Linked DNA regions of Homo sapiens: region 2 is linked to region 1. Evidence: fine-mapped expression QTL. A gene starts in region 1. The other region holds a variant in brackets. All regions are shown on one strand. Distances are from middle to middle.

The links. PIP is the estimated chance that this variant, and not a neighbour inherited with it, causes the effect. A credible set is the group of variants that fine-mapping cannot tell apart.
Region 2: its variant is the best candidate, but not a certain one, in a credible set for the expression of TXN2 in blood mononuclear cells (TOPMed, PIP 0.87).

The regions. Positions count from the first base shown.
Region 1 is chr22:36,478,546-36,483,915 of GRCh38, reverse strand. It overlaps TXN2 (thioredoxin 2), which reads left to right and starts at 2,276. Exons shown (of 4, transcript NM_012473.4): 1 at 2,276-2,352; 2 at 3,079-3,341. The coding sequence starts at 3,079. RefSeq lists an enhancer at 900-1,846.
Region 2 is chr22:36,458,606-36,463,975 of GRCh38, reverse strand. No RefSeq gene overlaps it. Among named protein-coding and RNA genes, the nearest start is that of TXN2, 20 kb to the left of the region's middle. RefSeq lists an enhancer at 1,994-2,526. The variant TACCTCA/A (reference allele first, on the strand shown) is at 2,571.

The sequences.
Region 1 (5,370 bases):
GAGAGCTCAGCCTTCTCTGTGTCTCTCAGGCTTTCCCTGCAGGAGTCATCAGGCAGCAATGATGTGGATTCTGTCTCTACTGCAACCCTCAGCCCAGCTATGAGAAAGGCATTCTTCCCATTGCTCAGATGAGAAGCCTGAGGCCGATCAGGGTGAAGTGACTATGGCATAAGGACAAACAGGACTGGTCCGCCTGTGAAATTCAGAATGTGAATTAGGCAGGAAAATTGGCTCTCTAGAAAATACTGTGGAAGTGCTGAATAGGATTGATAGGTGGCTGTGGAAAAGAAAGTGCTAGAGACACAGAAAACCGATACAAAAATGGGCAGGGCGGCCAGGCGCGGTGGCTCACGCCTGTTATCCCAGCACTTTGGGAAGCCGAGGCGAGCGATAACTTAAGGTCAGGAGTTCGAGACCAGCCTGGCCAACATGGTGAAATATAAAATTTCTGTACCAAAAATATAAAAAATTAGCCAGGTGTGGTGGTGCTCGCCTGTAATCCCAAGTACTTGGGGGGCTGAGGCAGGAGAATCCCTTGAACCCTGGAGGTGGAGGTTGCGGTGAGCCAAGATCATGCCACTGCACTCCAGCCTAGCTACAGAGCAAGACTCCGTCTCAAAAAAAAAAAAAAAAAGGCTGGGTGCAGTGGCTCACGCCTGTAATTCCAGCACTTTGGGAGGCCCAGGTGGGCAGATCATGAGGTCAATAGATCGAGACCATCCTAGCCAACATGGTGAAACTCCGTCTCTACTAAAAATATAAAAATTAGCTAGGCGTGGTGAGGCACGCCTGTAGTCCCAGCTACTGGGGAGGCAGAGGGAGAAGAATCCCTTGAACCCAGGAGGCAGAGGTTGCAGTGAGCCGAGATCGCGCCACTGCACTCCAGCCTGGGCAACAAGAGCGAGACTCTGTCTCAAAAAAAAAAAAAAAAAAAAAAAAAACTTTGATCAACAATTTGGAAACTGCCTGTTCTTTTAAAAACGCTCTTTCAGCTGCTGCTAATCCGAGTGTATATTCAGGACAACTTGAATCTCTGCTCCGAGTTGCAGTCTTCGAACTTGACCCAAAAAAACTCCCTGCTTAAATTAGGCTCGCCTCAGTTTTCATTTGTTTTCCTTTAGGCGGACACAGACGAGGGCCACTTAAAGGATGGCCCCTAAACTCCCGGTTGAGTTCTTTTACATATAAAGGGCATCATGCCTTTGAGGAGCTTAGCTTTACATATTAAATGGAGAAACAGAACCTGTCAACATCTGTAGGAAGTGGACAGCGCCAGTTATAAACAGGAGGCCAGGCAAGGTGGCTCACGCCTGTAATCCCAGCACTTTGGGAGGCTGAAGCGGGCGGATCACTTGAGCTCAGGAGTTCCAGACCAGCCTGGCCAACATGGCGAAACTCCGTCTCTACTAAAAATACAAAAATCAGCCCGGCGTGGTGGCGCGCGCCTGTAATCCCAGCTACCTGGGAGGCTGAGGCAGGAAAATCACTTGAACCCGGGATTTGGATGTTGCAGTGAGCGGAGATCACGCCACTGCACTGTAGCCTGGGAGACAGAGCGAGACTCTGTCATTAATAAATAAATATATGTAAATAAAATAAAGCAACAAGAGTTTGCAAAATCCAAAACCACGGGGACTTCTCAACTGCCTTTTCTCCCTTAAGTACCCTCCATTGCTACCCCTGCTCCATCACCTCCTCTTCCGGTCCCTCCTCTAGGGCCCGCCCACCCCTTCCGTTTCCGCCCCGCCCCGCCCCCGCCTTCGCCCAGACCAGGGCCCGCCCGCCTCTTCCAATCCGTTCCCCGACGGCCTGCCCATTGCTTCCGGTCCGTAGCTGAGGCCCCGCCCCTTCAACTGTGCCTCAGCCCGCCATTCCCATTGGCGGAAAATCCCAGACGCCCCTCAAATTGGAGAGGGACAGATGGGCGCTGTGGCTCACGCCCGTAATCACAACCCTCTGAGAAGCCGAGGCGGGCGGATCACGAGGTCAAAAGATCGAGACCGTCCTGGCCAACGTGGTGAAACCCCGTCTCTACTAAAAATAAAAAAATTAGCTGGGCGTGGTGGCGCGCGCCTCTAGTCGGGAGGCTGAGGCAGGAGAATCGCTTGAACCCGGAAGGCGGAGGTTGCAGTGAGCCGAGATCGCGCCACTGCACCCCAGCCTGGCAACAGAGCGAGACTCTGGCTCAAAAAAAAAAAAAAAAAAAAAAAAAATTGGAGAGGGACGCTCTTCCGCCTGCCTGTACCCGGAAGTGACGTTATGTACGTCCCCCCCCGAGGAAGTGACGACAGGCGTGCCCTTGACAGGCAGGGAGGGCTAGGCTGTGCATCCCTCCGCTCGCATTGCAGGGAGGTAGGAGCCCTGTGGGGGTGGCTCGAGGTGGTGTCGCGGCTGAGGCATGCCGCGAGCGCGTTCCTGCGCAGGCTGGCGGCCGGGCGGGCGGGGGGATCTAGCTCGCCGGAGAGCCAGGGTCCCTGGTGATGTCCGATTTTTCCCAGTTCCCTCCACACATGTCCCTTCTTTATTGGTTCCCTCCAGTACATGTCTCTTCGTTTTTGGTTCCTCTCACACTCTTAGTTCCTCCTTGAATTGTTGCGTTTCATCTTTTCAGACGACCCTGGGTTCCAGTGTTGGCTGTCATTTAATAGCGGGGTTACTTTGGGCATGTCACTTAACTTACTTGAGCCTCGTATTCCTTCCCTTACTCGCAGTGTGGGCAGTACAATAGCAACTTCCTGGAAGTTGCTGTAGGAAGACCAATAATGTGTGTAAGGTACTTGGTCCTTACATACATTATTAAATCTGTTGGTTTCTTCCTCCCATTCTTCCGTTATAATCTAAATCCCGATTTCTTTTTGGTTGTGAAGCCAGTTTTCCTGTCCTTCTGGTTTGCCTAGCTGTTCCTTCCCTTTGATTCTCATTGCTTCCTCACTTCCACGCTACAAATCTTACATATGATTTCCTTGCATTTTGCTTCCAACTCTGCCTCTTCCTGAGCCCTGAGTACTCCCCAAATCTTTTTCTAGTGTGTCGACTTCCTTTTGTGTGCCCCAGTTCTTCTGCCTCTTTCCCTCACAGATGGCTCAGCGACTTCTTCTGAGGAGGTTCCTGGCCTCTGTCATCTCCAGGAAGCCCTCTCAGGGTCAGTGGCCACCCCTCACTTCCAGAGCCCTGCAGACCCCACAATGCAGTCCTGGTGGCCTGACTGTAACACCCAACCCAGCCCGGACAATATACACCACGAGGATCTCCTTGACAACCTTTAATATCCAGGATGGACCTGACTTTCAAGACCGAGTGGTCAACAGTGAGACACCAGTGGTTGTGGATTTCCACGCACAGTGAGTATTGGGGGTCCACAGAAGACTAGGGTCCTACTTGTTCAAGTATTTATTGAATGCCTGCTGTGTCCCACGGCCATGTTCTATGCTGCTCATATGTAGACTCAATATACAGACTGGTCAGGCCCAGTCCCTGCCCTCAAGGGGAATGCAGTCTGGTGGAAGACAGACAAGTGAACAGTCTGCAAAGCTGACTGTTAGTGCTGGGAAACACATGTTCTGTTTCTCAATCCCCAGAAAGCTCAGCGTCATCTTTAGCATGGACCAGAGTTGGAAAAATATGACTGTCACCTTGCTTTTGGTGTATACCAGTTCCTGGCCCTGCAGATAAGCTGATGTTAACATCCTGCCATGAAAACCGCAAGAAGGGCTGGCAAAAAGTTATCAGTGTCGGCCGGGTGCGGTGGCTCATGCCTGTAATCCCAGCACTTTGGGAGGCCAAGGCGGGCAGATCACCTGAGGTCAGGAGTTCAAGACCAGCCTGGCCAACATGGTGATACCCTGTCTCTATTAAAAATACAAAATTAGCTAGGCGTGGTGGTGTGTGCCTGTAATCCCAGCTACTCGGGAGGCTGAGGCAGGAGAATCACTTGAACCTAAGAGGTAGTGTTTGTAGTGAGCTGAAGATCGCGCCATTACACTCCAGCCTGGGCAAAAAGAGTGAAATTCCATCTCAAAAAAAAAAAAAAAAAGTTATCGGTGTCACTACCGTGGTGCCCAAGCATACAGGGCATAGGAAGGAGTTTCCTTTCAGTGCTATCTGAGTTTGCTTTAGAGATATTTAAGTCCCTCTGGCCTTCTGAATTTTAGCCTGGGCTTTTTCATTTCTAGATCTTTGGGGCCTGGCTAGACACCCAACTACACAAAAGCTGGACAAAGCCCTCTGAATGAGGCATCCTGGGAGAAACCAGTGTAGCATAAGTTAAAAATTCAGGGGCCTTCAGGTCGGACGCAGTGGCTCACACCTGTAATCCCAGCACTTTCAGAGGCCGAGGCAGGTGGATTACCTGAGGTCAGGAGTTTGAGACCTGCCCAGCCAACATAGTGAAACCCCATCTCTACCAAAAATACAAAAATTAATCGGGCGTGGTGGCGGGCACCTGTAATCCCAGCTACCCAAGAGGCTGAGGCAGGAGAATCGCTTGAACCTGGGAGGTGGAGGTTGCAGTGAGCTGAGATCGCGCCATTGCACTCCAGCCTGGGTGACAGAGGGAAACTCCATCTCAAAAAAAAAAAAAAAGAAAAAGAAATTGAAGGGCCTTCTGGTCAGGTCTCTGACAGATTGTTTCGCTGGCTTTCCAGTTGTTTCTCTGACTCACCCTGTGGCCTTGGGCAGGCCACTTGATATCTTTGTGCTCCCTTTCTTCACTTGTAATAGGAGATAAGGTCTTGCACACTGGGTTTTTCAGTGTTATGAGTTGTTTTTGTTTTTCTTCTTTTAGAGACAAGGTCTCACTCTGTCACCCAGGCTAGAATGTAGAGTGCAGTGGTGCGATCACGGCTCACTGCAGTCTCTACCTCCTGATCTCAAGCAATCCTCCCACCTTGGCCTCCCAAAGTGCTAGGATTACAGGCATGAACCACTGCGCCAGGCCTGAGGGTTTTTTTTCCTTTTTTGTTTTTGAGACAGAGTCTCATTCTGTCACCCAGGCTGGACTGCAGTGGTTCAGTCAGCTCACTGCAACCTCCACCTCCCGAGTTAAAACAATTTTCCTGCCTCAGCCTCCCAAGTAGTTGGGACTACCACCCAGATAATTTTTTTGTATTTTTAGTAGAGACGGGGTTTCACCATATTGGCCAGGCTAGTCTCTCAAACTCCTGACCACAGGTGATTCTCTCCCGCCTTGGCCTCCCAGAGTGCTAGGATTACAGGTGTGAGCCATTATGCCCGGCCTATTTTTCAGCATTTAAAACCGTCAGGCCTGGCTGGGTGCGGTGTGCACCACCACACCTGCTACTCAGGAGGCTGAGGCAGGAGAATTGCTTGAACCCGGGAGGCGGAAGTTGCAGTGAGCCGAGATCGCGCCAT
Region 2 (5,370 bases), 20 kb after region 1:
GAACGGCCCAGAAAACAATGTTGGGGCCGTGTCCATGGAGGGCAGGATGCTGGCGACGGTAAGGCTGCCAGGCCTGCAGCCGCAGTTCCTCTCCGATGCCTGGAACACCAGCTGCAGGCGTGACCCTTACCCTGGCCAGGGCTGGGGTCCCCGGCTCTGCAGGAAGCCTGGGCCACTGGTTGTTCCAAGGAACCTCCCTTTCCAGCCACCTCCTGGCTGCAGGCCCCCCCAGGCCCTTCCACGGTGATAGAAGTAGGGCGGGAAGAATCTGATCTGGATTCAGATCCTGCCTGTGCCACCTGCAAGTTGTGCGACCTTGGGCAGGCTGCTTTTCCATTCTGAGGCTCTGTGTTCACGGTGGTGAAATAGGCTGGCAGTGACAGCTGGCACTTACTGAGTGTGTGCTACATGAATCCTCTCACTGAGTCTCCACCGCAACCCCAACAGCAGGGACCATTGTTACCGCCATTTTACAGACAAGGAAACTGAGGCTTGGAGGGCTTAAGTAACTTGGCATGAATGGAGTTCAGAGCTCAGATTTGAACTCCGATGTGGCCGGACACGATGGCTCACGCCTGTAATCCCAGCACTTTGGGAGGCCAAGGCAAGAGGATCGTTTGAGCCTAGGAGTTCGGGACCAACCTGGGCAACATAGCAAGACCCTGTCTTTACACAAAATTTAAAAAAAAATTAGCCTGGCATGGCGGTGTGCGCCTGTAGTCCCAGCTACTTGGGAGGGTGAGGTGGGAGGATCACTTGAGCCCAGGAGTTTGAGGCTATAGTGAGCTGTGATCTCACCACTGCACTCCAGCCTGGGTGACAGAGTGAGATCTTGTTCTAAAAAATAAAAATATAAAAAATAAATTTTATTTATTTATTTTATTGTTTTTGAGATGGAATCTTGCTCTGTTGCCCAGGCTGGAGTAGAATGGCATGATCTCTGCCCACTGCAACCTCCTTCGCCTCCTGAGTTCAAGCAGCTCTCCTGCCTCAGCCTCCCGAGTAGCTGGGATTACAGGCATTTGCCACCATGCCTGGTTAATTTTTGTATTTTTAGTAGAAACAGGGTTTCACCATGTTGGCCAGGCTGGTCTCAAACTCCTGACCTCAAATGATCCGCCCACCTCAGCGTCCCAAAGTGCTGGGATTACAGGCGTGAGCCACCGTGCCCGGCCCAAAAATAAATTTTAAAAAAGGGGAAAAGAATGAACCCCAATGTCTTTAATTTCAAATTCTCTTTGTTCTTGCTCATTAGCTATACTGCTTTCCTTTTGGGACAAGGTTTTCACCATTTTGAGCCCCAGTTGCACCATCTCCAAGTTGGGGCTCATGACAGTCCCTGCAAATGAGGTCACGGCTCAGCAGGTGGAAGCACGCTGGCACCGATTGGAAGTTCCAGAAGTGTTATCTGTGTGGCTTTCTCCTTTCCCCTACCCCCAGCCACATCTTAAACAGGAAACACCGGGCTTCCCAAGGTAAGGACCCCAGCACCATGGGAGGGGCCCGTCGCTGTACCAGGCTGAGGGCCTTACATTCAGCCCTGTGACCTGGCCCTGGTCCCTGCCACCACCTCCTCCTGCTCTGGAGCTGGCTTGGTGGTGCCTGTGTCTCAGGCAGCCCTAGGGAGTTGGAGGCAGTGACCTCACCCTTGGAGAATGCCCACTGGAATTCACCCTGAACCTGCTCCTCTGTTCTCCATGCCTCCCAGCCACTTCTGAGCGCACTCTCACGCTTACCTCTGTGGCAGCCAACGGAGCGTCTCCTGGGAGCAAGAACACTCCTGCTAGACAGCTGTTAACTACCAACTGGAGGACAAGCCAGTTCTCCACCTTCAGCCAGCTTGCTGGGTGAGCTTAGGCAAGTAGCTGTCTGTCTCTGGTCTGCCCCCTACCTCAGTGTCCCAGCAAAGAAGTCATCCAGTGTCCAGCCTCTGTGCCGATACCACCAGAGGTGCCTTCTTCGACCTAACACCTGTGGAAGGAGGGACTGATTCCATTTCATACATGTGGAGACAGAAGCCCAGAGAGGTAGTGACCGTGCCTAAGGCCACACCCTGGGAAATGGACTGAGGGTGGCTGACCCCATGCCCTGCTCCTCCTCCTCTGCCACACTGCTGCTCCCAGGAGTGTCAAAGGATCCCTCCTCTCATGCCCAGAGTAGGGACCTTGATCCGCTTTTTTTTTTTTTTAGATGGAATTTTGCTCTTTTCCCCCAGGCTGGAGTGCAGTGGCACAATCTTGGCTCACTGCAAGCTCCACCTCCTGGATTCAAGCGATTGTCCAGCCTCAGCCTCCCGAGTAGCTGGGATTACAGGTGCCCAGCTAATTTTTGTATTTTTAGTAGAGATGGGGTTTCACCATGTTGGCCAGGCTGGTCTCAAAATCCTGACCTCAGGTGATCTACCCACCTCGGCCTCCCAAAGTGCTGGGATTATGGGCACGAGCCACCGTGCCAGGTGGAGCCTCTCTTTTATCCACCTCCCCCAACCCCCACCCCACAAGGAGGCAGGAGATTCCATTTCCTCATGATCCACTCCTGAGGCGGGAATACTCTCTCCAGGCCAAACTGGC[TACCTCA/A]GCCAGCAAGCGTCTGTGCGGAGCCCCTCTGGGCCTGCTGGGTGATAGGAACTAGAGCAAGACACAGCCCCTGCCTTCCAGGAGTTCACAGCAAACACATGGACACATCTAAAGTCTAAATGCTACAGGAGAGATGACATTTACCACCATGGTGACAGAGTACAGACTGGCCGCAAGCCCTGAAAAGCAGCACATCTGCAAAAGGAGATTGTCGGGTAAAGCATGGGAAGGAGGTGATGCTTGAGAAAAGTTGTTTTTTGTTTTTGTTTTGAGACAGTCTAACTCTGTTGCACAGGCTGGAGTGCAGTGGTGTGATCTTGGCTCACTGCAACCTCCACCTCCCAGGTTCAAGCAATTCTCCTGCCTCAGCCTCCTGAATAGCTGGGATTGCAGGCACCTGCCACAAGGCCCAGCTAATTTTTGTATTTTTAGTAGAGACAGGGTTTCACCATGTTGGCCAGGCCGGTCTCAAACTCCTAACCTCAAGTGATCCACCCACTTTGGCCTTCCAAAGTGCTGGGATTACAGGTGTGAGCCACCTTGCCGGGCCAAGAAGAGTTTTGAAGAATCGACTGGGACTCGTCCTGAGAGGCAAGTGGTGGGAAGGGTATTCCAGGCAGAAGGGAGAGCGTATGCACAGCACAGAGGCAGGAAAGTCCATGGTCCATCCCAGGAGGAGGCTTTGGTGGGGCCTTGGAGTCACACAGTCCTGGCTCCAGTCACAGCCCTCTCCGTCACTAGCCAAGCCTCAGTTTCCTTCATCTCTGAAATGGGAGGACAGGACCCTCCTCATGGTTATGAGATCGTAAATGTAATGTCAGAACACAATGCAATTACGTGGTAAGCGCCCTATTAAACGCTTCTCTTATTGTGTGTTAGTAATGTGTATTAGTTTGCTAGGCCAGCCATCACAAAATATCACAGACTGGGTGGTTTAAACAACAGATGTTTATTTTTTCACAGTTCTGGGGCTGGAAGTCCAAAATCAAGGTGCTGGCAGGGTTGGTTTCTCCTGAAGCCTCTCTGCTTGGCTTGCGGGTGGCCACCTTCTTGCTGGGTCCTCACATGGATTTTCCTCTGGGCACACACATCCCCCAAGTCTCTCTCTCCTTTTTTTTGTTTTGTTTTGTTTTGAGACGGAGTCTCGCTCTGTCACCTATTACCCAGGCTGGAGCACAGTGGCACAATCTCGGCCCACTGCAACCTCTGCCTCCTGGGTTCAAGCGATTCTCCTGCCTCAGCCTCCTGAGTAGCTGGGACTACAGGCACCTGCCACTACACCTGGCTAATTTTTGTATTTTTAGTAGAGACGGGGTTTCACCATGTTGGCCAGGCTGGTCTCTAACTCCTGACCTCAGGTGATCCACCTGCCTTGGTCTCCCAAAATGCTGGGATTACAGGCATAAGCCACCATGCCCAGCCCAGTGCCAGTTTATGGAGGGGGACATGGAGGTACAGAGGGCTTTGGGTTATGACTCAAGGTCACACAGCTAGGAAGGAGCAGACAGGATTTAAACCTAGACAGTCTGACTCTGGGGTCCCTGCTCCTCTCCCCATGCCCTCTCCACCCTCCCACACACACAGCAGGAGCTCCCTGCACTCCACAAACACCCTTTTGCATGTCACTCAGCTCCGGTCAAACTGTTAACTTCTCCCCCATTGTCGGATACTAAGGAATTTTTCAGTTAATATTTTTCCATTATAAATGAGGTTGGAACAAACCTGTTTGAACATAAGAGCTTATTTCTTCTTTTGGATTTTATACAAGTGGGATTTCCAGGGCAAAGGGAGCATTTTATTGTCCCCGAGAGCGGGGAAGGAGTGAAACCCGAGCTGGGCCCCGCCTGCACTGCCCACCTGCCGGTTTACTTTGTGGGAGGGGAGGCTCGGCAGTAGGGATGTCCTGAGACTTGGCTCGGCACTGCCCCACCTCCAGCCACCTCTTTGTCTCTGCCGCCTCTGCCTTAGAAAGTTCCGGGCCCCAGCCAGGCACGGTGGCTCACGCCTGTAATCCCAGCACTTTGGGAGGCCGAGGTGAGCAGATCACGAGGTCAGGAGATGGAGACCATCCTGGCTAACACGGTGAAACCCCATCTCTACTAAAAATACAAAAAATTAGCCAGGCGTGGTGGCGGGAGGCTGAGGCAGGAGAATGGCGTGAACCCGGGAGGCGGAGCTTGCAGTAAGCCTAGATCGCGCCACTGTACTCCAGCCTGGGTGACAGAGCAAGACTCTGTCTCCCCAAAAAATCCAAAACAAAACAAAATAAGACAAAGAAAGTTCCAGGCCCCAAATCCTGGTTTTTCTGAGATTCTGAGTTCAAAATAATGGTTCCTATAAGGATATGGTCATTTTTTATTTTATTTTTGAGATGGAGTCTCACTCTGTTACCCAGGCTGGAGTGCAGTGGCAGGATCTCAGCTCACTGCAACCTCCACCTCCCAGGTTCATGTGATTCCCCTACCTCTCAGCCTCCTGAGTAGCTGGGATTACAGGCACCTGCCACCACGCCCGGCTAATTTTTGTATTTTTAGTAGACACAGGGTTTCACCATGTTGGTCAGGCTGGTCTGGAACTCCTGACCTCAGGTGATCCTCCCACCTCGGCCTCCCAAAGTACTGGGATTATAGGTGTGAGCCACTGCGCCCAGCCTGGTTTCCCATATGATTTCCCCTATTAGTAGTTCCCATCTCGAAGGGTCCCTATGATGTTGAGATAGGGAAGGAAGCTAGCAAGTTTGGAGCAGGAGAGGGAAATGGAAGCCCAGAGAGGGCAGGGGCCTTGCCTGGGCTCA